Linked DNA regions of Homo sapiens: region 1 is linked to region 2. The links come from fine-mapping of genetic effects on gene expression. A gene starts in region 2. The other region holds a variant in brackets. All regions are shown on one strand. Distances are between the middles of the regions. Region 1 has its middle 160 kb from the start of DKK2. Region 2 holds the start of DKK2 (dickkopf Wnt signaling pathway inhibitor 2).

Evidence for each region. PIP is the estimated chance that this variant, and not a neighbour inherited with it, causes the effect.
Region 1: its variant is fine-mapped to the expression of DKK2 in cerebellar hemisphere (GTEx, PIP 0.96).

Annotation. Positions count from the first base shown.
Region 1 is chr4:107,187,920-107,203,742 of GRCh38, forward strand. It overlaps the pseudogene RAC1P5. Among named protein-coding and RNA genes, the nearest start is that of DKK2, 160 kb to the left of the region's middle. The variant G/A (reference allele first, on the strand shown) is at 7,840.
Region 2 is chr4:107,029,357-107,045,179 of GRCh38, forward strand. DKK2 (dickkopf Wnt signaling pathway inhibitor 2) reads right to left here and starts at 6,957. Exons shown (of 4, transcript NM_014421.3): 1 at 6,014-6,957. The coding sequence starts at 6,235.

The DNA of each region.
Region 1 (15,823 bases), 160 kb after region 2:
ATGTACTGAATATGTGAATCAATGAGCAAGATCTCTCCTCCCCTGTAAAATGGAGATAATCATACCTACCTTACAGACTTATGTCAAAGAACAGATTAGATAACATGTGAAAAAAACTTCATATCTTAAACACTGTCATTTTATTATTCCCCTGTTAACTTATTATAGCATACAGGGGTCCTGCACAAAGTTTTTTCCATGTCATGGTAATGTTACCAGTATTATACCCCAAGAGCTTCCTAGGCATTTTTTTTCTAAAAGGCAAAGTCGCATTATGTGCGCTAATAAAATACCTATTAAAGAACTCTAATTAAAACCACTGATAGTAAACAATGACAGTAATCTGTTTGGATTCTAATTAGATAGATTATGTGACCATTGAAGAAAAGCAAAAGCCAGATCAGCTCTTCTAGATGGCTTGGACAAGGCCTGATAATGCTCTTTAAATGCTAAGAGAAATAAATCACAAGATGTCAAATAATCAACAATCATGTTTTGAAGACTTACCTATCCTCAAGGTCATGCTAGGTGATATATTCACACGTGGAATAACTGCACAGCCTGGTTATACATTATTTCCTTTATTGTCTCAAAAGGATACTTGGTCTGAAAGAAAATAAAGGCCATATTTTGACTTTGATGATTTGTGGAACCCAAAAAGATTTATAATTTTATAAACCAAAATGTTGCCACATTTTAGAACGCCAGAGAGGCTAAAGAAATTATTCAAAGACACACAGCTACTTAGCGGCTCAGTCATATACACCTTTTAATTCAGCTAAATTTAAATGCCATTGATGGTACTTGAAGGTCTTTGACTTTGTACTAACCTCCTGTGGTTTGAGAGCAACCTAGGAACATGCACAATGTTAAACATCTTAGGAATATAGTTCACTAAGCAGTTGTTTGGTTAGTTGGTTGAATATTTCCTCAGGCTGAACGAAGTTTCCAGCTGTCTCTGATTTACCTTAACTTGAAAATAGAGATAATAATGACCTTGGTACATTTTTTAAATCTAGAGTTCCTGAAGTCTTATCCCGTGTACTAACTTAAGTACAGCACTTACATTTTTTATCGTAAATGTTCTATACAAAATAACATATCTCTTAATCTCCTGCCTTCATAAAGAAGAGAAATCTATCTCACTGAAAAGCCTTTCTTGCAAACCCATGCTGTAATGTTGGAAATCTCTTTGCTTTGGCCTGAATTTTAAGCTGGATGTATATAATTTGACTTGACTTTCTCTCTGCTAAGTTATATTTGAACTCTCTCTCTCTGTTAGACTGTTTTAATTCCAAATGAATCTTTTCAAAGCACCTGACATTTGTGGTATGCATGACTACATGGTTACAGACAAAATAGTAAAATATATAAAAGACTTGTTACACATCTGGAGAAAATAAATTCTTTTCAATGCAGGAAGGGACATTCTACATTACACATTAACTTCCCATTTTGACCATTAAACACTAGTGCACTAATATTTAAAACAGTAAGATAAAAGTGAAAAATACAGGATTGCTTATAATTTGATTTCTGATTGCATGGGTATAATATTATAGGTAACAGCTTTTTGTAAGAAATTTGTATGGAACTCAAACATCCGTAAATCTCAATAATACTATATATTGCTTACTATATTGTGCAATGAAATTTGATAACTATAAAAAAAGCAAACTCAATTATTATTTTAGTGTTAGCATTACTACTGAATTTTTATTATTTTTATTAAGTAAACCCATAATATATAAAGTAAATATTAGTCTTTTGCTAGTCAGACTATTTAATTTAGCCAGAATATTTTATTCTTTAGCCATTTGGTTATGTAAGAGATTACTGAAACACAAAACTAACAAGAAATTAGTCAACTGTTTATTCCTTCATTCCTAACAAAATGGAAAGCTTTTAGTTTAATACAAGTTAACAATTATTTTTGAGTCTCTATTATGTGTTCAACATTGCTCTAGAAAGAAACATTGGTCACCGAAAACAGTTCTTGAAATACCAGTTCTTGAAAACAGCTCTTGAAATACTATGTTTGGAAATACTGAGCTATTTGGCATTTGTTGGAAATCGGTGACTATATGCTCAGGCAAAAAGTCTTAGAACTTGTATTGGAATAAACTCAGAATAAAATTTACAGTGGTGAGATCTTTACAAAAATATATTCAATGTATTAAAAATTCTGTAGGCATTATTATTTTATGTGTACTGTGCAATATTTGTTTCTAATTATATAACAATGAAAGACAGCATTCTATTGGTAGGTCCTACTTCTATTCTCAGCAGAAGAAAGTGAATAGCTGAGATGGCCTACTGCTTTCAGTAAAGACCCTCAGACCACACCACTTGAAACTGATTTCAAAGAAGCTTCCCCTGTTCTCAGATCACACCATCTTGTTTTTTCCTGCTGGAGGCTAGTCTTTCATCAATCAATTAGAGGATTTTAAAGCTACACTTAAATTTTAAAGCTACATTTAAAATTGCGCCTATTGGGCAACTTGGCCCAAATTTAGCACTTCTTCACCTTGCTTTTGCAGTTGTTCACTTCCTCTCAGGAGTTGTATCACATTCCTTTGCAGACAGAGACTATATCTATTTATTCACTTATCTCATTAAAGCCTAAAACAGTGCTTTGCATATAGAAAGTACTCAAATACTTTGTGAATAACTTAATAAATTATTAAATAAAATAAAAATAGGTAATCACTAGGAAATATTTTTCTGCATAATATTATTCTATAGTTTAGTGACTTAAAAGAACAATTTATTTAGCCCATGAGTCTGCTGGTACAATTTATGCCAGACTCAGCTAAGTGATCTTGGCTTGCACAAGCATCTATAGTCAACTAGCAGGCCAGGGAGATGGACTGATTGGCTGGTACAGGGAGATAGCTAGGACAGTTCAGCTTTGCTCCACATGGTCCCTTATTCTCCATCACAACAGCCTGCGTTTGTTATCATGCAGGGGCAGGATTCCAAGAAAGAAGGGCAGAATTATGCAAGGCCATTGGAAGTCCAGGCTCAGAACTCAGTACAGTCACTTCCACAGCATTCTATTGGCTAAAGAAAGTCATGAGGACAGCCCAGATTCAAACTGTGGGGAAATAGGCTCCACTTCATGATGACAGGAGCTTCAAAATTTTATTGCAGAATGTGTGCATACATGGAGGAGTGAAGATTTAGATACATTTTTTTTGCAACCAATTTTTTGCAGGAGTTTTTTACTTGCTGGTCTTTGTTTTTACTGAGAATCTCACAAAAGAAAAGGTAACCATAACTCTAACTGTAACAAAAGGGAAGGACTTATAATATATATTATATATTATACTGGAACAAAAGGTATGAGCTACAGTTCTTCTTGCCTAAAAGAATATGATGTCCCCTTTGTAGAGAAGTTGTTCTTTCTAAGGATCCAGCCCCAACAATAGAAAGAAAATAGATAAGCTAATTGGCTAGATTTCCTCTCTGCCTAGTATTCCTCATTCTATGAAAGGTTTTATTATTGCTTTAGGACGTTCATAAGTTCAGGGACTGACACCTACACAGTGCTAGAAAGAGGCAAAGGTTCAGCCAAGGTCATCTGCTCATCAAGTCTCCCTGCCCTCCACTTGGAGTTGGACTTTTTAGTGGGACACTGGAATGGAGTTTAAACAAGCCAGGTTATAAAAGAAAAATAGGAAGAGAATAAATATCTGCATGGTGATAAAATAAAAGCTTCAGTCGAATTATATTTAAAGGAGTTTAATTGAGCAATGAATGATTCACAAATCGGGGAGACTTTCAAGCCAGAGTAGGCTCCGGACTCCAGCGCAGCCATGTGGTAGAAGAAGATTTATGGACAGAAATAGGAAAGTGATGTACAGAAAAAGGAAGTGAGGTACAAAAACAGCTGGATTAATTACAGGTTGGGGTTTGCCTTATTTGAACACAGTTTGAGCAGTTGGCTACATTTGATTGGCCAAAACTCGATGATTGGCACAAGTGTAGGCTACGGCCTGTTTACACCTCTACTTGTTCTAGTTCACAGTGTACAGAAAAACCTTTAGGCCACACTTAAAACATGTAAGGAGGCAGCTTTAGGCTAAACTTGATTGAACAATGGTTTGTACCTGCATACCCTTCAAGATTCATCTGAACCATGTTTACACACTTCTTGAATATTCCATGCTGCTTTCTGCAACAGGGTCTCATAGCCCATATTGCTCTCTATGCCTGGAAAGTTATCCTCTCTACCCACTTCATCTGGTTAACTTCCATTCTTCCTTTAAATGTTGTAGCTCAGACAATCCTTCCTTGACCCAAAACTATATGAAAGTTGTTCTGCTAGATGTTTTCTTAGAACATTCTTTCCTTTCATCATATTTATCTCCGTTTGTACAATTGTGTGATTATTTGATTGAGATCTATCTCTCTCACAGACTAAAGGCTTCATGAGGGCAGGGGCAATTCCGGTTTTCCTCTCCCTTGTATTTCTGTTGCTCACACAGTGCTTACCTCATAGCGGTTGTTTGCCAAATGTGGGTTGGTTAATGAGTGAATGCGTGCAGAGTTAATAAGTAACTAACTGTGAGTTTTTTAAGCAGGAGAAAAGTTATTTTAACATTTCTAAATTATGCACATTAAATATTAAATAAAGCCTGGGAAATCAGGTGTCTCTGTTTCCAGAGGGATGATACAGTTTAAACAGACTCTGCTATGTTTTTTCCCAATGTGCTTCCAGATTGGGGCCAACGAATTGCCCAGATTGGAGAAAGAGTAGTTCTGTCTTGGCGATCACCTATACTCAGGCTCTAGCTTCTTCATGAATCAGTGCCAGGTGTAGTGGTGCTTTTTGCAATGCACACATCTTTCCTATGAGGTCATTACTGATGGAAACCATCAACACCTCTGTCCCTGGGGGAGAGCAAGAAGTCAACTCCATTCAAATAAGCATTCCTCGAACTCCTGCTTAAGAAACACTCGCCAGCTCCTACCGCAGATGTTTTAGTTTGAAGGACAGGATAAAGGATGACACTGAGGGGTGAAAATCGGAACAAACCCATTACAGATGCATTGGGAAGGAAACTATGGAAGAGTTTCCATGTGTCATAATAGTATCCTTATCATCCTTCCACTTAATTTAGTCAAGCAATAGAATAATGTTCCAAGTAGGTGCCAATCTATTCTGGGCAGATATCAAAAAGTGGTCACTTATTTCATCTCCCATAGAATAGACTTACTAGACGGTAAAATTCCTTCTTAGCATGCTAGTGCTATATTAGTTTTCAAGGCTAGTTTATTTTGCAAGAATAATCATTGTGTAGTTCTAGATATTATTGTTGTTGCTCAATACAGACTGATGGTAAGCAAATGGATGTATAGACCAAATGGATGTATAGATTAGATAATGCAAAATGCATGGCCAATAAGAGGAGAATTCATTATGGAAAATATGACCAAGGAACACATTTCTTTGACTATCTAGCTATCTTGATTTCTTAAGTAGGACGTTTATGATGGACCAAGGTAGCCTGCCTAAACACGGGTTTTAATAAGTCAGTATGAAAGAAACATCTGTCTTCATTCAACAAACATTTGCTGACATACTAGGAGCCATGCTCTGCCTAGGACCTAAAATCTTATAGGACATTTCCTAATCATAAAGAGTTTAGAGTCTTGCAGAGTTGTTTGTCAAGTGATGGGTGAGAGGGTGGCTAATTGGGAAAAAGGAGTGACAATGAAGATGAGGTATTACTTGAAGCATAGGAACAAATTATGTTCAGCTACGAAATTTCAAGAATATGAACATAATTGGAGTGTTTATGAGAAGGAAAAGGCTCATATTACTGCAAGTGATTTTCAAGAAGCTGAAAAAGAAAAGCTGGCATTTTGGAGAATGGAGACTCAGAAACCTTCAGAGGAAGCCTTTGAAGTTTTAGTGAGTGGGGTTCTGGTTGTTTCCATAGCAAGGCTCAGGGAGTTGGGTAGGTTATGAAGACAGCATCAGGAGACAGACATCTCACCCACTCCTGAAACTCAACCACTCAGAAAGGTTATAACCCACGGAAAGTCAAAAGACACTATAAGTGTTTCTGCTGGGACAGAAAACTGGACTCAAATAGGTAGAAAATATAATTCTTTCCAATTAATATTTTCAAACAACGTAAGAGTAGCAAAATATCATATTCTAAGGGATGCAAGGCAAATGTGAATGGGAAGTGAGAAAGTAAGCATGAATGCACAAGGAAGGGAGTGCTAACTCCCGTTCAAGAGAAAAGTCATACCACAGTGACAGGCCTGCTGTGCAAAAGCCCATTTAGCAAGAACAGCCCAGACCTTTCTTTCAATTTTATCAGAAGCCACTGATCCTAAAGTATCACTGGCGCCTACTGAATTTTCACCAGGGACCTAACAGAAAACATCTGTTCTCTTACTTAAAACTAAATCAATTGATTAAATCAACGTTTGCTTGCTCTCTTCTATTAGAAGCATAGCTATTTCTCTTTTTCTTCTCTCCTGACTCCTTTAGCAAGTTACTTCTGCTTATGAGTTAAAATCTGGGATAAAGGTGTGTCTCCTTCTGTGCCTACATGGGGAAAGTTACCACAGGTCAAGCTGAAATTATGTCACAAATTCATGGATGTAAACAATTTGGTAATATTTTATATGTAAATCGAAAGCCTACATAACCACATAAAATAACCTCTAGCAGCAAATACGTGTGTGTGTACACAAAATTCTCACTGCCTTGAGAAAACCTCAGCCATAAATATGAAACTCTTCATTTTAAATTTGGTCTTCATGTTTAAACTCCTTTTATAGTTTTTGTAAAGGAGATTCCATGAATGATTTAGGCCTGGTTTTAGTTGAAGCTTTCGAACTTAAAATTGGAATCTTTGTTATAAAACTTCTGTGATTAGGACCCACATTGTCTTATATATTTTTCTGAGTCAATAGGATTACCCTACTCTATTGATCACTGCCCACTAAACAACAAGATCCATATGAAGCAGGACCTCAGAAAACAAGAATACAATAGCAGCCAACTGTGCAGCATGGATGTAGTTGTCACAGAACAAACTCTTATCTGGCATCTACCATGTGCCAAGCACTGTTCTAGACCCAGGGTATACATGGAGAAATGTCATAGTGATTGCCATAAAGAGTCTCACAATCTAACAGAGAAAAGAAATAAACCTCCAGTCATAATATCCTGAGATAAATGTTGTGCTGGGGGATATATATAGTGACCCAAGATAACAGAGGCAGGGGGAATAACTCTGCCTTTAGAGAAAGCGGAGGGGGACTCAGGGAAGATTCCACAGAGGCAGTAAGATTTGAGCTGGGCCTCACAAAGGATAAGCTCCAATGCCCATATATTTCTCTGGCGTATTTCTAATTTCTGTAAACTTGGCAAGTTGTTTCACTGCTCTGTTCCTGAGAGTATTCATCAACTAACCGAGGGAATTAGCAGTAAGTCACATGTTTAAAAGACAAGTTGGTAAAGGGGGTGAGAGGGATGTGAAGCTGCAGTTAGGGCTAGGGTGAGAGGGATGAGAAAAACAGGAGTAAGGAGAAAATATGGAAGGATGGTATCCTTAGAAAGGAGAAAAACAAAAGAGAAACGGTTCCACATGCATTTTACCTTTTTTTCCCTTTGCCACCTTGAATTTATAGGCAGCATCGAAATCATTGAATGGGAAAATGAAATAACATAAATAGTAATAATCCTCTTCATCTCCATCAATTAATAGGGTATATAATAAATGTGATATTTTTAAAATGAGGGGAAAGTTATTAAGGCTCAGAAAATCGACATATTATGACAGGAAGGGGCCATAAATATCAGGTTAGTAA[G/A]CATACAAGAACAGCAACTAGAGGCCTCTAAAGAAATTAGGTGAATAACACTTAATCCATATGGTCACTGTGGGAGTTAAATAAAATATCTATGTACAAGACAAAGAACATTGCCTGGCACCGATTTAGCATGCAGCAGATAATTATTTTTATTGTTGTCATCCGTCACCATCTGAAAATATAGCAAATGAGAAGGGAAAGGCCCTGTCCAACCTCACAGTCATCTGTAAAGACAAACTGGAGGTGGCTAGTGAAACAGGAAGAGAACAAATGTAGAAATTTTACTGGGGCTACCTCACTATTCCTAATACCCTAAAGCAGATCCTAACTGAATATGTGACTCTAAGGAGGCTCTAGGGGTTATCCACCACCCTAAGATCTTGACCTGGCAACATCTTTCAATAGATGTCGTGATAAGATAATAAAGAACGAAAACAATTTAGAAAGAAATGTGCCGAGAAAAGTCCACAGAAGGGAAAAATAGGAAGAGGCAAAGTGAAGAAAAACATATGAAACTTGTCAACTTTTCTACCTATGGCTATATGCTGGCCAACTGTTAGGAACATTGGTGCTAACAGGGATAACACATCATAGTGATTCCTGCCCAGAAATAATATAAAACACAATGCAGAGGCATGCTGGCTTCATTTGCTGCAGGATCTTGGAACTAAAACAGGAGGGAAAATAGTTGTTCCCCTCCCTGGAATGTCCCCAGACTAGTCTGTGGTGAGTTTACCACTGCCCTGGCACCTATCACAGGACCTTTGGTCATCTCTGCAGGGTGTGGGCTGATACTCGACATGACCACAGCTAAACATGGGGATGCACATGACAGAGGGAAAGTAAATGAAAAGGATTTTGTTTTTCACATCAGTGTCTGAGGTGAACAGGCCAGACCAAGAATGAGATACAGTATTATAATCTGACAACGAAATACAGAAAGCTCAAAACTTGGGGTGCCATCAAAGCCATGCACAGTAGGAGAGAAACTTCAGATACATAATTGATGCATGGAACTGGAAACAACCAAAAAGCTATTCCAAGTTTCTGAAAAGCAGCCAAATCACAATATCTTGAGACATTCAGAAAGTTCCTAATGAAGCCTCATCCAAAAGCAACGTCTAAAACATGTGTTCTAGTAATTTGGTGATTTATTCAACCAGCACCTATTAGGGACCTATCACACACCCAACGTGCTGCTCAGTTCTGACAGATGAGTTCCTGCCTTGTAGGAACTTATACTCAGGTGTAGGGGATAAGAGACACATTCCTCAGCCTTCATGGTTTGAGTGCAGATTATATTGAGATGAAGTGATGTGGTAGGGTGCACCCCTTAGGAAAGAAAAGTTGGCATTCAGAAACAAAACAACGTAAAGGGCTATATGTGCAGCTGAATGGCTCAAGGAAAACCACCTAGGAAAGGAAAATGTGTGTTCTCTCTGTTCTCTGCTATGTTAAATAGCCATTAGACTGTCCTCTATTTCAAAATATTGAAACACTATAGAAAATTGCTGGGTAAATACAGAACTTGTAAAAGGAATTTGCAACCATCCACACCCCTGGAAATATGGGACTCTGTTTCCGGGTTGTGACGGTTATATAAATTATTTTCTTTCTCACTGACTTTCAGGTTCACTAGGAAATGGTGAGCTAACAGCACTAAGAATTATCTTCAGGAGAAATAATCCTTCCTAACAGAGCCTGTATACGTGTTATCTAGATAGGTACATTTGTCAGAAACTTGGGTAGAGGTTATTCTATCTCTCCTCCAAATTTAATTCTTGAATCTGATTCTCTGTTCCATTTATCTTCAAGAAAAAAAAATAAAAACCATGTGATTACAAAGGCAAAGACTTGATGAACAACGGAAATGAGATAAAAAGTATTCCTCCAGAAAGTAAAAATACCAAGAAATGGTTTTTATTCCTGTGTATTTGTACAAGCTAAACGATGGTCTAGATGAGGAGAAAGTGTCTCTAGGAAGATTGGCAACGGAATGAACTGACGTATTCTGAGAAAAATAATAGAAGATAGGCTGATGAAAGTTCAGATCCCAGCACAGGCAAAAAGTGTGGAAAGGGAGGAAATAAAGAGGCCTATGGATACTTCTAAGACAAATAGTTTTATTTTAAAACTCTAGTCAAAATACCTTGGTGCAGACAGGAAAACAACTTTTGAGAATTACATAAATAACAAAGATTTGAAATTGGAAAAAAAAATTTACAGCACACAGACTCCCTAAAATATAATTATGTATTGCTTAACAATGGGGATACAGTCTGAGAAATGTATCATTAGGTGATTTTGTCATTGTGTGAACATCATAGAGTGTACTTACATAATCCTAGGCTATATGGTATAGCCTACTGCTCCTAGGCTAAGAGCCTGTATAGCATGCTACTGAACTGAATACTGCAGGCATCTGTAACACAGTGGTAAGTACTTGTGTATCTACACACAGAAAAGGTGCAGTAAAAACACAGTATTATAATCTTATGGGATCCCCGTCATGCATGCAGTCCCTTGTTGACCAAAACATCATTATGTGGTATGTAACTGCATTTATAAGTTCCATATACATATGGTCTGTATTCAAGCTGAAAATATTACTTAAATTGTTCCTCTATAGGAAATAGAAGAAAAAAAGTCTGAAAGCCCCCTATGATAAAGTAAAAAAACATTTTTTAAATGAGGTCAACATTTTTTGCCCCCATCAACACCCAGCATATCATCAGAATTTATATTCTTTATACTAAAATTTCTGGGAAACAATAGAATGCCACAAGCCGGGAGATTATATTTCTTATTTGTTTTTTGGAATATGGAAATACACATGCACGTATGTGCACATGCATGTGTGCACACATGCACAACCAATTGGTAATAGGCACAGATGGTGTGGGGATGAAAGATTCTAAGCTGGATCTTTGTGGGTTTGGAGTTTGGGAAATAGCCTAAGAGATTAGGGTGGAGGTAGAAAGCTCCTCAAGGATCTTTATTCATGATTGGAATCCCAGAATTCCATGAGCCTTAAAAATCATCTAATGCAGTTATTCTAAAATCATGCTCTAAGGAAACCCAGGATGTCAAGAATATGCCTCAGTGATCTACAAACAAGTAAATGTCTGCCTTACAAACAAACAAAAAAATACCCTGTAAACTACCTAAAAATGTATTCATCACTTTTAACTATTTTTATATTTTAATGTTCAAAATTATCCATTTAGTCCAACTGTCTCATTTGACAGGTCAAGAAACTTAGAACAATCAAATAACCTTCTCAACGTCTCAAACTAGTTAGTGTATAGTTAGGATCATGTATTAGTTTGAGTTCTTCTCAAAGCAAATCTCAAGACAGACTTGGGTTCAGGTAGCTTCTTTAAGAAGTGACCCTCAGAAATCTGAAGGAGAGAATAGGGAAAGTGAGACAAGGAAGAAAAAATTCAATAAAGATATATGAATGAATGGACTACTACTGTGGCAACTAGGGCTCAGTCTTGCTGGGGAGCTACTGAGAAACCTTGTGGAGTAGGCCTCTGAATTTTCCCACCCAGGAATTGGATGACTGTGTTTCCATCCACTATGTCCCATTCCACGTGGATAGAGGGTTGCCCTTGGCGACCTTAACTCCCCTGCACTTCTGAGCCACAGGGTAAGCTCCCAAGGCTCTAGTGAAAGCCCTCAGATGAGTAGTGGAGAGCCGCCCTACTTGAGGCAAGAATCAGCTTGCAGGAAACTATTCATCACAGATGCAGGTAAGCTCAGGTGGGCCCAGGGGCAATGGGGCAAGGCATCCACAGCATCCATAGCACTTGAACCCAGGACTTCTTACTCCCAAAGCCTTGTTTCACTGATATAACACTAAAGGAATGTGTTTATACTGAAAAGGGTTCTATTCTTCATCAGGCACCTGCCTTCCTGATGAGCTAGTTTCAAACACACAGCAACCAAAGCCACCACTACTTTCCAGGACGCCACAGAATAAGAGCCATTTCACATATACCTTATACAGATGAATTTACTCTATTTCAACTTCAATTGAATGCTTCTCTAAAAGAGGGATCTAGGATTTCATCAAATGAAAGGGAACTAGATGATAACAGGGATCCAGCCAGGATTTTTCTTCAAAAGGAATATTGTTCTATGACAGAGCCAAGGCAAAGACATTCTGAGAGATTCCTAAGGAGTACACGGAGCTGAAAAGCTGATGTGAGATGTGAATAAGTTTAGCCTGTGAATTGGACCTAAGGACGTAATAGAGAACATGCTGGTAAGCCACAGTTATTAGGGATGAAAAAGTAAAGTAGAAGGCAGGGTGATGAGCTGAGAAGGCCCCTAGTGATGAGAATGACACAGATAGCTGTCATTTCCTTTTCTCACTTTATTTAAGATACTGATTATTTTACCATGGTTGATGAAGATGCCAAAATATAAGCACACAGACATTTTTCAGTCCCTAACCCACTAACAATTTTGTATCTTCCCCTGCAAGATTTTGGAATACTTTTCATAATTAAAAGAAATCTTGGAAATATCTTCTATTTTCCACAGTGAATTGTTTAAAATAAGATTTGGGTTTAAGTGGGCATAATTTTTTATTAATAGTACTCTGCTGACACTTAAATATTGTAAAGGAATGAGATTCATAAGATCCTCTTCTTCAATAATCTAAATCATTTTAGGTTATGGAAGATTCTTGTATTCTTAATAAATATAGATTTATGGTACTGTTATCCCCATATATAAACTTGTTTATGAATATCTGGATTCACCTGCACACCCACTGATATGGTTTGGCTGTGTCCCCACCCAAATTTCAACTTGAATTGTAGCTCCCAGAATTCCCATGTGTTGTGAGAGGGACCCAGGGGTAGGGTCGCTAACGTCATAAGTGCTTCTCTTATAGAACCCCTTCTTACTGAACAATTGAATCATGGAGGCCAGTCTTTCCTATGCTATGTTCGTGATAGTGAATAAGTCTCATGAGATCTGATGGGTTTATCAGGGGTTTCCACTTTTGCTTCTTCCTCATTTTTCTCTTGCCACCACTATGTTAGGAAGTGCCTTTTGCCTCTCACCATGATTCTGAGGCCTCTCCAGCCATGTGGAACTGTAAGTCCAATTAAACCTCTTTTCTTTCCCAGTTTCAGGTATGTCTTTATCAGCAGTGCGAAAATGGACTGATACACCCACATAGCAAAAACTATCACAGAAGCTGCAAGGAGGAGAAATATTTACTCTATGCCAGACAATGTACCATGAAGTCTACATATTTCCTGAATTCAAATAACTCATTGATATTATTTCCAACTCATTGAAACACATTGATCAGCAGCTTAAATATTAGAAGGCACAATGATAGACTCTACAATAGATACATAAATGGATCAGGAATAATCCATGTCCTCAAGGAAGCTATAGCCTAGTAAAAACAAAAATCACTTTAATATAAGATACAGTATGTTTTGTCATTGAAGTGTTGTAAGTAAATGGCATAGGAGTTCAACTATAAAACTTTGGTGACATGAAATGAGACCCTAATCCTGTGGTGGAGTGTGGTAAAGCCAAAAAAAATCACATAAAGCCTTGGAAAACTTGCACCTACATTCAAAATTCTCTGCAGTTGTGAATTGATAAATTTGATTTGTTCTCTGGAAGACTGCTTAAGTCCTGCCACTATTTGGCTTTACACACTTGACTTTCTGTTTACCCCTATAGTTCTATATCTTTCTTGTCTTTTAGATTTAAAAAAATAAAAATACGTTAAGGTCTGAAGAACAGGCTTGAGATAGGTCCAATTCCTTTTAGGTTCACAAATATCTCTTGTCTTCCTTAGCATAAGTCACGGAGAGCACTTATCTAAGTTTGGTGTGTTTTAGGCTAAAAAGGCACACACTCTGCACCAATAGACTGTATTCAGGAGCAGAGGTAGATAAAAATTATCTGTTTTGTTAAAGTACTACACGCCTAGAGTAATATTTATTTTGCATTCTTCTCCCATGAAAATTTTTCCTAAAGAAATACTCCAAATAGTTCAAATGAAAGGGATTTCAAAAATGCCAATTAATCAAACTGAAAGTTTCTTAAACTTTCTGGTGGAAAACAACTAAAGAATATACACATTTGAAAATGCTTTTCATAATGGGAAAGGAAATAAAACATAAGAATTAACATATAGTATACTAAGCATTTTTCATGCATCACTTTTTCCAATCCTTATAGCAACCCTGTGAAATAGTTACTGTTATAAGTACCATTATACAAAAAGAGAAACTGAGACTTTGAAAAAAAATAAGTCATTGGCGAATATTATGGGAAGTTGGGATTTGAGCCTAGATCTTGCTGATTGTAAGTTTGTAAACTTAACTACTGCTAACAGTTTCAGAATCCATTCATGTTTTCTGGTTAGTAAGCTTGAGAAATAAGACCTGTGGTAATAGATACATATGCACAATATTAATTTGTATCTCAATGAGCATGATTGAGATTAATGATTATTAGATCAAAATATGATGCCACCTTAATCATAAACCATGTTTTGTATGGTTTAATCCACATTCATATGGAGTAATTGATCCTGAAAATTAGTAAGGCTTTATAGTAATTGTTTTTCTATAATTCCTATAGAGAGAAGGGGAAATCAGTGACAGAAAATATGTAACCTGAAATATTTTGGGGCTATAAGAACTATTTTTCCTGTATAACTGCCAATGACTTCATGTTTATACGAAGAGTGTAAATATTCAGAAAATCCAGGGACCCACCATGATTCATTTCTTAACCTGCAAGCACTTTAATAATAGGCACCTAAAACTTTTCCACAATGTGAATAAGAACATCTTGCAGTTACTACCTTGTATAGAGCTCACGTAAACAGAAACTGCTACTCAAATATTTTATCAAAACACTGTCTTTGTCCTTTGATCACACACACCCCACCCAGCACACCCACAACTAAACAGAATACTTCATTAGAGGAAACACATGAGTTCTGTTCAAAATCTCAGCAAAAGTTGGCCAACTAATTTTTAGAAAATTCACTGTGAAATCAAAAAGACTTATCCAAAGAGCTGAGATGTCGCACCCATTCCATTATACAATGTTACCTCATGAAAATGGGCTGATAAATCAGCCCACGAGTTAAATGGCAACGCTTCATTCAGGAGGCTGTTCTGCTTCACGCATCTGACAACTACTTGGCAAGTGTCTGCATCTCCTAACTGCAGAAGCTACAGTCTTCTGAAAGACGAAGGTCTTTACACAGTTTAGTGTTCGGTGTTCTTGGCACACGAATGCAGTGTAGTTCAGAAGGTATTTTGGCAACTCTTAATCTGAGCAAGAATGGGGCTTTTGAAAAATAAGAATTTAAGAAGTCTTGTCATTTTAGGGCTAAATTTTAATAGAATATGAGTCTGAACTCTTACATTTAGAACAAACAAAACCTTAAACTTACCGATTGGTTCAAAATGGTTTTCTGGAAAAATTAATCTGTAACAAAAAGTTGGCATTGAGTGTGAAGGTTCCACCGTTTTTTGAGCAAAGTGTACAAAGATTCCAATGGACAGGACCAAGAACGAGGGGCTCAGACATTTACAACAGCAGGCATTTTCTCTTCCTCTTCTTCACGGGAGGTGGGCAGAGGACTGCTTGGATCTCTTTGTCAAACACTGTTGAGGCCTCGCTGTGTGAGTGCCGAGCACTTCAGGTATTTTACAGCACCAATCTCCTTAGTGATGGCTAGACCCTGCAGATAGGTGATGGGAGTCAGCTTCTTCTCCTTCAGTTTCTCAGTCGTGTCTGTATCATCCCTAAGTTCAAGTTTAGTTCCCACTAGGATGATGGGAGTGTTGGGACAGTGGTGCTCCACCTCAGGATACCACTTTGCACGGACTTTTTCAAATGATGCAGGACTCACAAGGGAAAAGCAAATTAAGAACACATCTGTTTGCGGATAGGGTAGGGGGCATAATCTGTCATAATCTTC
Region 2 (15,823 bases):
TGTATAACCTCTCTATGTCTCAGGAATGTCTTTTTTATTAAATGTTTCATCATTTATAAAAATAAGGATGATACTAGGATTTGCTTCAAAAGGCTGCCTAGAGGATCAAAAGAGTTAACGCAATTGACGATTTAGTTTCATGCCTGGCATAGAGTGAATAATCAATTAATGGTACCCTTTATTATAAGTTATTGTGTGCCGTAAGTTCTTGCAAGCTAGTTTAAGGAAATAATATACCTGAAGATCGCTCACTTCTTCTATTTCCCTGAAGAAAGAACAATCTTATTCCGGATAATAAAGTATAACATGAAGATCTAATGTCTCTTGGGAAAGGTTTGGACAGAACTACCACTTTGAGAAGTCATTTTCCCTAATTGTGATATTTTTATTTGTTTTGTCATTTAATGTACTTATTTGCTCATTGATTTTTTAAAATTGTAGATTTGTTCTTTTTTTGCTCTAGATTATTTTGTTTTAAATTAGATACTGCAAAGTATTTAAAAGGATATCTGATGTCCATTTGTCCCTTTTGACTCTGTGGAAAAAGATAAGTAACATTTTTTTAAAAATTGACTACTTTTGTATTTTTGCTGATTTTATTTCTGAATTTATATTTAAAGCACATAGAAAAATCTAAACTATTATTCAGGTTCCCAAAATATAATCTGTTGTGCAGATTCAGGGGTTGTGGAATACATGTTAGAGTAGCAATTCTGTTGTTAGTGATACATAAACTAATTACTTCTATTAAAAAAAATTTAACAGGATATTGCAATCTTTCTGCTTTAAAGTTTTCTTTGATTAAATTTGCCATTACAAAGAAAAGAACCTACCAAATGCTGTATCGACTGACTTCTTTGAAAGAATGCTTTATGTTTGTCCTAACACTACAATTAGAGAAAAATATGTTATTCTGCTCTAGTTCCTGTCAAGAGTGGACAGAGGAGGAACAGAAAATTGACCTTTGCTTACCTTAAATAGTAATACTAAATTTTTCTTATGCATTCTATATTAAATCTTTCTGTGTAATCTTAAAGCGATGCTACATAATGCAATATGTCTATCAATTATGATTAGCCTTACTTCCTTTTGGTTTATGCTTTTGGACTGTTAAAAAAAGGACGTAGTAAGGGGCTCAGGCAGACACAAATATCACATAAACCTTTTGAACAATCAGATAAATAACTAAAAACGGGTTTATCTCCTTGTTATAAGTGAGCACAAGTGACTAGAGGCATAAGGAAGTAAAACAACTCCAACAGGCCGTCAGAAAGTCACAGGTAGAAATTTGATTGTAATTGATTTTGCTGTTAATTCAATACTAAAGAATAAACAGCCATTAGAGACTGAGTCTAAAATGGTAAATATGTTAACTATTATAAATTTCTTCTAAAATGTAACCGATTATTTTAATGTACATTTAAAGCAATTTTGTAAGGAAATGAAGAAGAGCCAATATTTTCCTAGATCAGAATATACTAGCTATAGTTCTATGACATTGCCTTACCTAATCTTAAAATTATAAGTTTCAAAATATCTTGGAAAGGAGAAGAGGGTGCAAAAGTTTGTATTGTAGAAGAATATTCAAGAAGATTATGACAGGGTCAGAGTCACAGCTGGAGTAAGTTTGAGCAACTTTGTCCTCTTGCGCTCTCTAGTCTAACACAAAAATAAAATGATGGATGTTCATATTAGATTATCATTAAAATACTTTTCTTGCTATTCAAGAACTAACTTTCCACTTGTATCAACTATCAATTTTCTATAATTCATGGTGAGAGGAAAGGAACGTTAATGTAGATTATTTCAAATTCCTTTATTTTTTAAAATTTAATCGTAAAAATGATTTGCTTTCCTGATTGTGTTTAGTGTTAGTCAATGTCCAGAGAGGCTATCAGATTATTTACTCCTAAGCAGGAGAAAGTTGGGCTGAGGTTAGAAAAAAAAGTCATGGATAATTTCAGAAAGTAAAGAGATCCCTTACCGAATATTAGAGTATATAGTTTATTTCAGTGAGCACTTTCATGAATGTTTGTGCATACAGATACAGCACACTTTCATTAAAGAAAATGCAGTCTACAAATATTAGTGCTCTTTAGTCAACTCGTTCAAGCTTCTCTTTCAATGAATTTCAAGAATTCTTTTCTCACAACATAACTTCATCCAAACCACTATCCTTGAAGTGTCCCAGTCATATCAGAAAATCATAGAATCTGAATTTGTGTTAAACCATAGCTTCTTTTTAGAAACACATGCCAGAAAGTTTATCTACATTTAAAATATAACTATAAATATCACTATTCTAGTCACTTTTAAAAGAATTGCAAAATGCTACTGCATTGCATTCAAATTAAATTCATCTGCCCGTCTCAGAAAGACAAAACGAGAAGAATAAAATAAGCAATTACAAACACAAATCCAAAGGTTTTTCATTCACACAGAAAAATATGTGAATTGCAAAGCTTGATTTTTTTAGTAGTTTGGGTTTTTAAAATTTGTTTTGAAGGTGGTCCATAAAAGTCAACACCTCAAACTTTAGAGATAGTATCGAGAAATGGCATACTTCATCAAAATATATTTATTCACATGATATTGAAGATTTTGTTTGAAATTACTTTTAATTTAGAACATCTGAAACAGTATCCTTAGAAATTGACATATATATTAAAATGCATAAATATTTATATATTATGTAAATATACTAGTAACAGTCTGAAACTTAATTTAGCCTGTATACATATACAGCACATACATGCAGTACTTATTAGCAATAGCTGCAAATGAAAAGGCAAATTAAAACATTGATGCGAATAATTCAGCAGTTCATTTTTTGCTAATTCTGTATCAATCATCTGAATACTATCACTCTCAATTTCCTATGTCAGTTTCCATTATAACTCATACTGTGTTTTTGAAAGCCAACCTTAAATTGAGAAATGTAACACCTCTGGAGAACAGTGGATTTTCTCTCTCTAAATTTTTTCTAAAATTCAAAGCCACATTTTCTAGAAGTGATATTACAAATAATCCACCTTGCCTATGGAACAAGTAGAATTCCTGTAAATAAGAATGTTTATCTTTATATGAAATCAGGCAACTTTCAATAAAACTATAGAGCTCATATAGTCTCATTTTCACTTTTGTAGATTAACGAATTACTAAATTTATTCAAGAATTTCTTCTGCAGTGGCAATATTTAATTCTCTATCCTGAAAAATTAAAATAGGCTATTTTCAACATCCATTTAAGAGAAAGAACACCAAGGACTGAGTTTCCAATCTGCCTACTTGAAGCTGCATCCTAGAGCTTCTTCCTCCTGTATCCCTGAAAGGAATATATTTCAACATCATCTGTCAAGTATAAAGGGAATTGGGGGAAATAAAACTTATTAGGTCTTAGGATGATACTACATGATTAGCTAATTTGATTAGTTGACACATTAATTCCAATATTTTCAATCATATTTACTATTGTGATGCATAAAAATTCAGCTCAGCTACCTTTCTATTCTAGAGTTTTTCTCTACAAAAGGAAATAACATCTTCCCTGTAATAGCCTTTCTAATTTCCATTTCATTTCTGAAAATAATAATACTAAGAATGTTGGTGACCACATAACTATAGAATAAAAAAGATAAAGAGACTCATAAGTATCCAAAGAATTATTCTTTTCACTTCAAAGAGAAAATATTTTACTATTTGTTTCTTCATAACAGTACATACTTTAGATCATTCGTTAAAGAAGAATACACAAAATAAAATTTTCACATTTGCCAGCTAGCCTCCTGCTATTCAACCCAGTATTTTATTTTGTTTTACCTTCATCTTGAATATGTTAACAATTTTTTTCACAAGCCTAATGTCAAATTTTAACAATCTAGGATTCCAGTTAAGTAAATATAATAAAATATATTCCATAGAACTGCTATGTTATGAAAGGCATATAAGAAATTCAACTCATTTGTGAAATAAATAAATAAATTCTCAATTTAAGGCGATGTAAGTAGACTTCCAAACTCTTTAAGAAGCATAATTAAGTAGCTATTTGGAGAGGTAGCACCACAAAAACATATTTTATACCGATTTATATACAGATACAGTATTAAAACATAAAGAAGAAGCTAGGTTCTGGGATGCATCCCTCAGTCTCCCCTGTGTAACGCTAAGGCTAATGAAACGACGCATGTAACTGATTTTCTGACAGAGGAACATCAGGTATGTTGGCCCAATAGTGGAACAGAAACAAAAAGCGCTTTACAAAAATTCCCAGAAAATACATAGATTAGAATGGAAAGGAACCTCAGGACTATTGAGGTTTCCTTCCCTGTGTCCTTGGGGGAACTACACATTAAGCTTTCTTCAACTGGGAACATGAAATTTGAAGTCAGTAGCATTAGAGGAGTCATGATTTGGATTGAGAGCACCCATTCTTTCTAATCCCTGTTCCATTTCATGACAGACTTCTAAGAAACTGTTAGGACCATTGCTATTGAAAATCCTGGGGTGACTCGCAGGAGAGAAAAAGCGAAGGAAAGTGGTCACATAAGCGCGTAGGCATGTGCACGTGTGTGAGGATGTGCAACGGTTATGTTTGCCTGAACGTATATGTACTTTCTTATTTTTCCTGAGACCTTAAAAAAAATCTGATTGCTGATTTTGTAATCCCTTGAAAGGATAGCTGAAACGGTTCACACTTCAAAGCTCTGGGAAGAGTTCTGGAACTGCAAAACTAGCAAAACTGCAAAATTGTCCCCGTGAGAGGGCAGTAGGGGGCCAAGCCCGGGTCTTGTCTCTCTGTCCATCCCAGAATGGCTCGGCCCTCTCAACCAACCTTCAGCCGGCTGGCTGCGCTGTGGACAGGGGCGGCGGAGGACACCGAGAGCGCGCAAAACAGCAGCATCAGTCGGTTCCAAGGAAACTCGGATCTCTGGGGCGTGGGCCGCTGCCAGGGGTTGACACTTGTGTTGTGCGAGGTGCGTGTGCCATTGGTAAAATGGCTTTCTCAGTTTTGGCTTCCCACAAAAGGAGCGGAAGGGGGAGCTGTCATGATTCCCAGTGCCCACAGAGCCCCCTCTCCTGGCCACAGCGCGCCAGCCACAACTGGTACCGAGTGTGCGCGCTCGTCTCTGTGCGTGTCTATTTGTATAACAGTTTGCAAGTGGCTTTCAATCTATCTGTCTGTATGACAGAGACAGAGGCGCCTGCGGAAAGTTCCCTCTCTCAAAAACGCCTTCAGTGTCCTGCTGTATCGCTGGCGCCTACGACGCTGTCATTGTCATCTCATCATTTTGCTTCCTTCCGGGTGATTTATGTACAATTCTGCGTGAGTGAGAAATGCGCGTCTACTGGAGTTGTTTTGTCTGTGACCTTACTTCTTTGAAGAGAGTAAGTGGTTGGAAGGGAAGGAGACCCTGAAAAGGAGTAATGTCCCCTCCAGATTGTAAAATATAATGGTTAAACGCCCAGTATCTCAATGTCTAGACTGAAATCCCTCTCTGCCACTTATACTAGCTGTGTGCCTTGGGCAAATCGTTAATCAATCCGTGCCTCAATTACTTCATTAGCAGAATGGGAAAGCAACAGCATCTAGCTCACAGAGTTGTGAAGATTAAATGAGTGAATATGTAAAACGCTTAGAACTGTGCCTGGCACGTTATTAGGTGCTATAGGTTAAATGCTATTAACATCTTCATCAGTTGCATCACAGTGTTAAATGGAAGGACCATCCTGACCACTTTCTCCACAGGAAAGCACTAGATCTTGATATGTGCCCACGCCCCAGAGCAAAGGCGAGACAGAATCCTAACCCTTTGACTCCGTGCAGTGCAGGACCAGCAGCCACCCAGACACCCCCCGCCCACGCAGACCCTGTTCGGTGAATCCCTCCCCAGCCGCCTGTTCTCTGTATCTGGGGCCACGCTCCGAATGTTGCAAGATGCAATGGCAAACCGCTAGCCCAAGAGAGCTGGCCCCTGCCTCTTCTGTCTGAAGAATGTGTTTGGGGGTTTTCCTACCTGCCCCAGGTTTTTGCCCTTCTTACTGCCGCCGAATGCCAGTCCTTGGTACATGCCCGCAGATCGATTGGCGGCCTGACCAGGCGTCTCCCCGCCCAGAGAGGACTTGATGGAGTTGAGTTTGGCCCGCGAACTGCCGATCTGTGAGCTCTCCACCATCAGCACCGCGGCCAGTAGGAGCAGGCAGCAGGACGAATCCTTGCTCCGCATCAACGCGGCCATCTCCCGGCGAGGGGGTCCCCAGGAAGACGCAAAGCCCGGAGGGGTGGGAATGCAAAGGGAGGGAGGACCCCAACACGGGGCCCCTCACTTGGGTCGCGGGGGCTTGCAGATTGTGTTCCCTCAACCCTTCCTGGTTCGGGGACCCAGGACCCTATGAACTCAGTCTCACGCCTCAGGACAGAAATTAGCGGAACCCAAGCGAGACCCGCTTCTCCACCAGGACAGGAAGTTCTGCAATAACTGGAAGCAATCAAATGCGAGGCGCTTTCTCGCCAAGGAGGCGTGACCCAAGGTGCAAGAAAACCCAGCCCTGTGGATCGCACCGCTTCCGTTCCTTCTTGCCCCGCACCTCCTTGGTCCCGCCGGGATCTCGGCGGTTTAACTCTCCTCTTAATTGATCAGGAGGCCCGCATCAGCTCCTTCTCCTTCAACTCAGTTGCTTTTCTCTCCTCTCTTTTCCTATCCTTTATGTGTCAAACTTTGCAGGACACAGTGCTCCTTTTCAAAGTTAGCAGGCGCTTTAGTAGGGGATCAGGAGACGTCCCCGGACCGAATCCTCGAGATCTGAAGAGAATCGAGGTCCCCCACACGCGCACTCACAGTTGCCCCGAAGCGTTGTCCCCTGACTCACAAGAGACAGCGAATCGCTGCCAGCGCAGCGATGCCTAGGGAGCGGACTTGCGCTACGCTCGCCGCGGGCTCCCGCTTTCTCTCTCTCTGCTCTCTCCCCAGTCCTCTTTGCTTTTTATAGCTTCCCACAGTGAGGACTTTTTTTTTTTTTTTACCTCCGCCCCCAATTCAAGAGTGACAAAGAGTGAAAATTTTTCTCTCACTCCCCACCGCTTCCGCCCCCCTCCTCTCTGCGTGCTGCTTCTGCTTCTGCGGCTTTCACTCCAGCTTTTCCTCCTCCTCATCCTCCCGCTCTGTCTCCACCCACAACTACTGGAAAAGGGGGATCTAGCTTTTCCATGAGGTGAATGGAACATAGGGGCTCCTAATTCCTGACAACAACTCCAGCGGTTGGAGGGGTCTTTGGAAACTGGCAGAGACCAAAGGTGGAAACGGAGTGGGGCAAGCTGACACCACTTGATCGCTGCCACCCTTTCTTAGATCTTCCCACCCATCTTCAGCCCCTGACTCCGCGAGGAGAGCTGGAAAAGCCCTATGGAAGCTTTAGAGAAGTGAGCATCTGCGCATCTGCTCATTAGTATTGTGTTCTTTGTGAGCTCACGTTTGGTTTTAGACTGTGCCTCCCAGGGAGTGTGTGAAGCTGGAGCCACATAGGTGCGCCAGGGGGTGGCCAATGATCCGGATAGAGGGTCTGGAAGGAAAGGGGCAGACCAAAGAGGGGAAAAGATGAGCCTGTTCGATTTGGGTCTTTTTAGTCTCCTCCTTCGGAACCCCGGGCCCCGCCGCACTCGTAGAATATGTCTATGTCTCTGAGGGACTGGGAAGAAGGGGATGCTCTGGGTACGCTCCAAGGGTTTGGACCTCACAGCTCGAATGAGCATCTTTACCATGCCAGGCAACTGCTCTTTTTGCGAATAGGAAATCCCAGATAGGAATGAACGGGGGCAGGGAGCCTTTGAGATCCTGTCTTCCTTGGCTTCCTGCCTTCTAGCCCCAGTGAATTACAAGAGAAGCCATTCCTGTCAGCCCCCGGGTCTCTCCAGGTCCAATTCCCTTCGGCCGAAGGTCGAAGGCTGCTCCGGGAACGACTGGGACGCGCTGGCGCTTGGGGGCGCCAGTGGCAGCCGTTCAGCGAGCCACGGAATTGCTGCAGGAGACAAGCGCTGAGTTCGGTGATGTCTGGTGGCCAAGTGCGAGACTTTCCAAGCAAAGCAAGGGATTGTTCGAAAGTTATTGCATTTCTGCTTCGCAGACACTAATGTCCAGGAGCAGAGAAATCCAAGCATTGAGCCACAACTTGAAGTTAGAAGGCAGCTAGCCGCCAGGGGAGGATACAAGCAGCATCCTCTTCAGAATTTTTGGACCTAGATTTCACAGCTTTCACACCTGATCCTGGCGCATGTCCATGAGTACGAATTAAACTTGTCGCTAAGTGAGAACGTTGGTGACTCTTATTTTCCCCCAAAACAACGCAGAGTTCTAAAGTGTGGATTTAGAGCTATTTTCTCCCAGACAGCTCCAGTTTTGCAAATTTCTCAGTCCTGACCTATGAGTCTGTCTGCCCTGAAATTCTTCATTTTCAGATTTTTTTTTTAATACACAAGGAAACGGGGATTAAAATATGCACCCTCTGGCATGTGTTCTTATCTTTTGAATTTCCTTTCTTTAAGGTAGAGATTTTTCACATTTTAGTGTGTGGGGTTTTTTTTCCACTTTTTAAAAATATGCCAGGAATAACAATATGGGTGACCCCTGAAGGACATCATACTAAGTGAACTCGACCAATCACAGAAAGACAAATCCACTTATAGGAGGTACCTAAAATAGTTAAATGCATAGAATCAAAGGTTGGAATGATGGTTACCAGGAATTGGAAGGAGAGGAGAATGGGGAGTTACTATATCAATGATCATAAAGTTTCAGTTAACTAAGATGAATAAACTCTAGAGATTTGTCATATGGTATTGTACCTATAGCCAACAATAATGCATTGTATTTTTAAAAACTTATTGAGAAGGTAGATCTCATGCTATATAGATATAAATTTTATATGTGTGTGACTTTATATACATGTATAATATATATATGTATTTATACATATAACATGATTGTAGTAAGAACATTTAACATCTATATATGCCCAGTAATAAATTTGTAAGTTTATAAAGTTAAGTGAGGCATTCTAGGCACTAATAAAAGGCAAGGAAATGGGTCGTTACTCTATAAATAAGTACTTAACGATTCCAAGCTTAGACTTTACAGAAGAGTATATCTTTTGCCTTCATTCTGATTTGCCAATCAGAAAGCATGACAGAAATTGAGAAACTTAAGTTAGGAGTATACTGGTTTAAATATTTTTGAAAAGTAGCTTAGAGCAAAAGGAAAAGATAGAAGCTAAACATGTAGGCAACAGATCACTCTACATTCACTTGGAAGGGTGTAGACTTTGACCATATGTTGAAGAACAAACCCAAATGAACCATGAGAAAATGTGAAGATGCTTTGCCTATTTCTGTCACTTCCTTCTTTCTTTACCTCTAAATAAAATAATATCCCACATACACAGGCCTAACTTTACTCACATGTACTGCTAAACAGAAAACATATATCAAGCACAACACATTTACTCTCAGCTCTGAGTACCATCCTAAACACATTATCTCAGAGGCTTATTCAAACCCCGCAAGTTCCAAAAGCAATTTTTTACAAATACAGTTAAATTAAAAGTCGACATAAAATCTACTTACACAAACATTCTTCCATATAGAACAAAATCAGACATATAGAATCAAAAGCTAAAACATACACAATTACGCCTTAGGCTAAAAAGCAGTCAAAAACTAATTTCATTCATGACCCAAATGCTTTGTGTAAATTTTTTTTGACAGACAGAAACAAACATACATGACCCATATGTTGACAAGTAGATATGCACACACAAAATCAACTAACTGTAAATAAACATAATCCTGTGGATTACTGTCATGGCCCCATATGTGTTTTTCCTGTGTGTGTTTTCCTAAGTGTAAAGACAAAAGCTTCATATTTTACTTGGGAAAGTAGATTTTTATGCCATTTGCAATAATATAATTAGAGAGTAGATATTTAAAAACAAGACTGTACAAAAGCAGGATGTACAACCTTCCTGTCCAGAAGAAAGTGCCTTAATGGACATTTTTTCCTTTGGCCATACATTCCCTCTTATCTTTGCTCCTCTAGCTGTGGGGCCATTTTGGTTCCATAGAAAAGCCACTACTTTCTCAGCAGTTGTTTCTGGATCCTGGATTCCTTCTGAATACTTAATCCCAAAGGTAAGTTAAGTATATAACTTGTTACCTTAGTCTTGTTTACTGAAGCTTACTAATTTTCATCCCATTACCTCTCTCCCTGCATTAGTGAATATTTCCTACAATAGCCTTTTTAGCAGTTGTTCATGCATTCCCCGTACGTGAAGCAAGTATGGGGCCCTGAGGACACAGAGGTGAATGAATGGGGGTCTTGCCTCTAAAGGGGCTTGGAGCTCTGTAGACACCTTAATATACTAAAATCTGCTCCTAGCCCCTCTCAGAAGTTGCTGCTGTGAGCCTTTATTCTCATCCACTGCTGAATTATGCCAGTCTCAGAGTTCAATCTGTCACAGGATAGCTGCAACTTGAATTCAAGCCAAGCTGGCTTGAATTCATGTGACTATGGGAATATAAGTGATCAGATATGTCCCCCAGAGTTCTTTTTTTCCTTCAGAATTAAATGCACATTTTAATGGTGTACATAGAGACAATACTTCTACATTTGTCGTTGAACCCAAAGAAATGACCCTAGTGATGGTCATGTTAGGTCAATAAGAACAGAATAGCAAACCTGGGAAGTAAGATTGTCTTTGGTAGGTCCCACAGGACCGCAAAGCATCTTGCACACACAGAATAGACATGAAAATCTTTAATGTATGGTTGAAACTTGATGGATGTTAAGGATCTGAAAAATAAGGTTATATGGGTTTTCCCTCTCCATAGTAAACCAAGCTACCTGGCTCTGTAGCCTAGTAATACTCATACTTTGAGAGTTTTATGTTTCTCCTCTGCCTAAGAACAACAGTCTTATGTGTTGCTGCAAATTAATTCTAAATACCTGGTAACAAATGTAAGCTTGCATTGATATTGTGAAAATTTTTTGTGTTTCTTGATGGGAATAATTTTCATACCAGATATGAAAAAATTGCATCTCCTATTTGATCCCTGCATTAGTTTCAGTTGTTGATGCTATCTTGATAAGGTCTCATGGACAACAGGACCAGCTAATAAAAAAGATCTCATCACCTACATTTGATTCACTAGCTATGCTTACAAAAACATGCACAAGTGAAATGGGTCAGAAGATTTCACAGTAAATCAATCTGAAACAATTGCTCAGCCAACGGCTTCTTTTTCGAACCTTAACGAGTTAGTCATCTTATCCATACTTCACCTGCCACTTAAATGAAAGAGGATTACTGAACAGATATTACCCCTTGAGCCTGAACCCAAACAATAAAAAAAATGCAAATAACATAATCTGAAACTCAGGCAGATAAAAACTTCTGCTGAGCCTTGTGCATATATGTGACCATAGATGGAGGTGGAATTAGAAAAAGTCATCAAATGTTTAATAAGAAACATTTTCCTTTACGATATAAAATTTTTGTTAGTTCTGTACAATGCATATCCTTTTTGGTAAGTTCTCACTGCTGAGTTCTGGCAGGTTTTTTCAAGATTCAGCTTTTGAATCAGTACTAAAGTACCAAGTAATACTTGGCAGTGAAAGAATCATATGTTTAATTCTTGAGTGAGGTTCAATTCCAAGGAATCTCATCTTGATGAGCAACAAAACAAACAACATTTAGATAATCTGGACCAGTGATTTTCAGACTCTGTTCCTTTCGGGTCTCTAGGGTTCTGCAGTGGTCTCAAAGTAAGTTGAGAACTGTGCTAATTTTTATAATATTTCAGAGGAGAGGTGTCCAGCTCTTGGATCAAAGATAAATTTTAAGTGCCTGTTTTTGTTATTGTTTTATTGGACAAAATACTCTGTGAGCCGTCAACCCACCAAATACATGATGGATTGATTTCTACCCTGTTAGTATTACAGACAATTTCCAAAATGAACATTACTCAAATGGGGAAACTATTAAAAATATGGCAATTTATTTAGTCAGAAATGATTTGGTCATTTAAAGTAGGGAACATTAAAAATGAAAAGGCAGGGTAGCTAATCCATTCATTGTACAATGTGTTTATTCCTGATCAATTATCTGAACCTATGATTAATGAATATGGCAAAACTTTAACTATACTCTTACCACACATAAAATAAACTGTGGTGCAGACTAAAAATAATGGAAAAACTACTTGCAAATAATAAAGACATAGATTCTCAAGAGGCAACTCAAAAATCTGTCTTTGAAACATAACTGGGCTTGGTAACAGAAAATGAAAAATGTGCTTAGTTTATCTTTGGAAGATTCATTTGTAATAGATCCTACTTTTTGATGCTCTAGGTATAAATCATAATACCTAGGCTCAAAAATAGTTTGGGATATAAGAAAGTCAAGACACTATGCTGCAGTCAGCTTAAGGAATTTTATAGGTAACTGGCTTAGAATATACAGCAATAATAAAAGTAATAATAATAGTCAGATTTATTGAATGCCTTACATGTGCCAGGTTTGTTGAACACTTTACATATAGTGTCTCTTATTTGTATCCCACAATTCATCCCTTTAAGACAATGAATGTACAGTCCAATATTAAAATAATACTGAGCAAAGAGTAGCTTGCAGCACAGTGTGTCTCCATTTGTAGTAACGAATGCCCAGTTATGGCAATAATGTGGAAGGCACACAAGAAAAGGGGAACCCATCAGAAGAAATTGGAGGTGCCATTTCACCCTTGTAGCAGGCCCCAACACAGATTCCTCTGAAGGAGCTAAAATAAGTCATTTGGTAAACGGTTGCAAAGAACACCAAAAATATAAGTACATGACTACATGTATTGAAGCTTTGCCTAATATAGTAAAACTCTTGGGCCTTAAAAATCATATAGCAGAGAACTTAAAAAGGCCCTCTGCTACAGATGGCATATTAGATTTCTAGGGATTCCATAACAAAATGATACAGATTTAGTGGCTGAAACAACAGAAATGCATTTCCTTACCATTTAGGAGGCCACAAGTCTAAGATCGAGGTGTTGGTAGGTTTGGGCTCCTCTGAGGCTGCTCTCCTTGTCTCACAGATCACCACTTTCTCACCGTGTCCTCCTGTGGTCATCCCTACGTCTGTGTTCAAATTTCCTCTTCTTATAAAGAAACCAGTCATATTGGATTAGGACCTACCCTAATTTCATTTTAATTTAATTGCCTCTTTAAAGAACTCATCTCCAAATGTGGTTACATTTTGAAGTAGTAGGACTTAGGGCTTCAACATATGAACTTGGCAGCAGGGCGTGGGGCAAAATTCAGCTCATAACAGATAGATTTATACATGTAGTTGCATATTAAAACACTTGGGAAAAGAGTAACATTTCTGTACACAAGACATACAGCAGTTTCTCAGAGTTCCTAAACTCAAAGGAGAACTGTGTTATATGTTTATTTTGAAAACATTATTTAAATATTTTTATTACCATTTTATTTCTGGATCTGTGTTAATGATATTCATTTTTTCACCTTCTCTTTTTGTGTGACTTATGGCTAAATTAGAAATCAGCCAACTGAGTCTGACTGTGATTGTCAATATTCCACTGGGGCCCTGAAAAGGAAAAGAGAGAATGCAAGCAATTTGCCAAGAAGATAAAGTCATTTCTACATTTTTTATAAATGCCTGGTTAATGAAAGATGGAAACAATAAAACATATCAGTACATGATAGAAAAGTGAAATCATGGTAGATCAAAGGAAAAGGAAGCAGCAAACAAAACTACAGTGATCTAGCAATCAGCAAGTTGTTCTGTTACTAACTTAATTTGTCCATTTATTTAATTTGATTTGTTTAATTTACTCAGAAAGTTAATAGTTCCTTGGAATCACAGTACCTTTAATTAATTCAAGGCAGTGCTAAATATGTGAAAACAGAGGGGATATCTAATTTCATTGAAACTGGTAATGAAATCACTTTTAATATAAGTGCACTTGACCACTTAGTCTTTAAGTTATTAAGAAATCTGATTTGGAATAAGCTCAAATTTACTTTAGCTTTTTGTTGTTTTTTTCTGAAATTTATAAAATGTATTTTGGTTGTTATTGTCAAGAATGTATGTGAACATTTGTATATATCAAAGAACAATCAATATCTCCAAGAACATAACAGCTGTTTATATGTTACAGTTGAAATTGTTGGGTTAGCCTTGTCCTCCAATGCCAATCAATGTTGTATTTTTAAATTAATAATAAAATGAAACTCTCAAACCTTTGATCAATTTGCCTTTTATATATCAAAATGTATTGTATAAATATGCTCAGTATTAACAGAAGTACTGAAAGTTTAAAACCATCTTTTTGTTTTATAATATTCAATGTACCTCACCCCACCACTTAACACTGGAGGTAGCTACCACTGAGGCCAGGAATATATGGACTATAGCTATAAACTGGGGCTCTTTTTAACATGAAAAGGTAAGCTAATTTCCAGCCTTCTAAATACAACTTCCAAATTCACTAAATTACTTCGTGTTCCTCCTATATGTTAGCATAATTTTAGAAGGTAATTCATTAGAAAAGCCCCCAGCTGCAAGTTCTAACCAAAAGTTATACATGTTATAGTCCAAACTCTTCATTCTCTTTAGCCAAGTGTAGATACTGCCTAAGATGGCTGATTTTAAATTAATTTGTATGATGATATCTGTCACTCACTTGTGAAACACTTCCTGAATATAGCTGACACAATCATACCCAATTTTCTGTTTCAGGGACTATTTAATGTTAAAAATGTCTCTAAGGAAATCATTCTAAGGAATGCCTCTAAGTAAATCTTTATATGTGGGGGATGGAAAAGACAACCCATCATGGTATTATTCTCTGACAACAAAAGAATTCCTGTTAATGGTTAGTAATGGTTATTATTGTTTGTTTTAAGTAGTGATCTTATAGTGATTATTAGTCGGAAATACTGAGAGGTCCAAGTTCATGCAGCAGAGGGCAGTAATGGACACTTGTCATGGTAAGAGAGATGAGCCAGAGATTATTACAAAGTAATTTTTCTGGAGAAAAGTGTTTAATGGCCTTTCCTATACCAGTGTTATTAAATAGAGGAGAACTGATAAATAAATGCATCTATTCCTCTCATGAAAAGTTTGCAACACTCTTCAAATATTAGATTGACTGAACTAAAAAAACATTCAGAAGGTTTTCTCTTATCTAACTTCATAGAAAAGGAACGATTTTCCTATGCCAAGGCATATGCAGATGTTGCCCATGTAGCATTGTAAAAGCTCTTCCAAACTACTCAGAAACAGAGGCAGGTAGGCAACTTTGTAAATGGTCTCATGACTGTGCAGAATGCATTGGAAATTAACAGCACCTTTTTCATCTTACTTACTACCACTTTATTATCTGTCTTTCTCTCACTACCTGAAAAAAATGCAACAAAATCCAAGGACTTCCATCTTTACCTTCCTTTAGTTGCTGTACTGCCTACTACGCTAACGATGTTAGCAATGTTTTGTCTTTGTTCTTTCAAAAATTACTTCAGCAAGCTGTTTCTTTCTTCAATCACATTATCCCGAATTTACACCTTGTTCCACCGCTTGAAATAAACCATCAAATAAAGCAGACCCAAAACAATGGTAGGAGGTGAGGATGTTATTCAAAATTTTCATAGGTAAAAATTTGAAGGTAGAATCTGGGAATACATGATGGCATAGTTTTTCTAACTCATGCGGTGCTATGTAAAACCAGAAAAAGAGATGAGGATAACAATTCCCCAAAATGCACA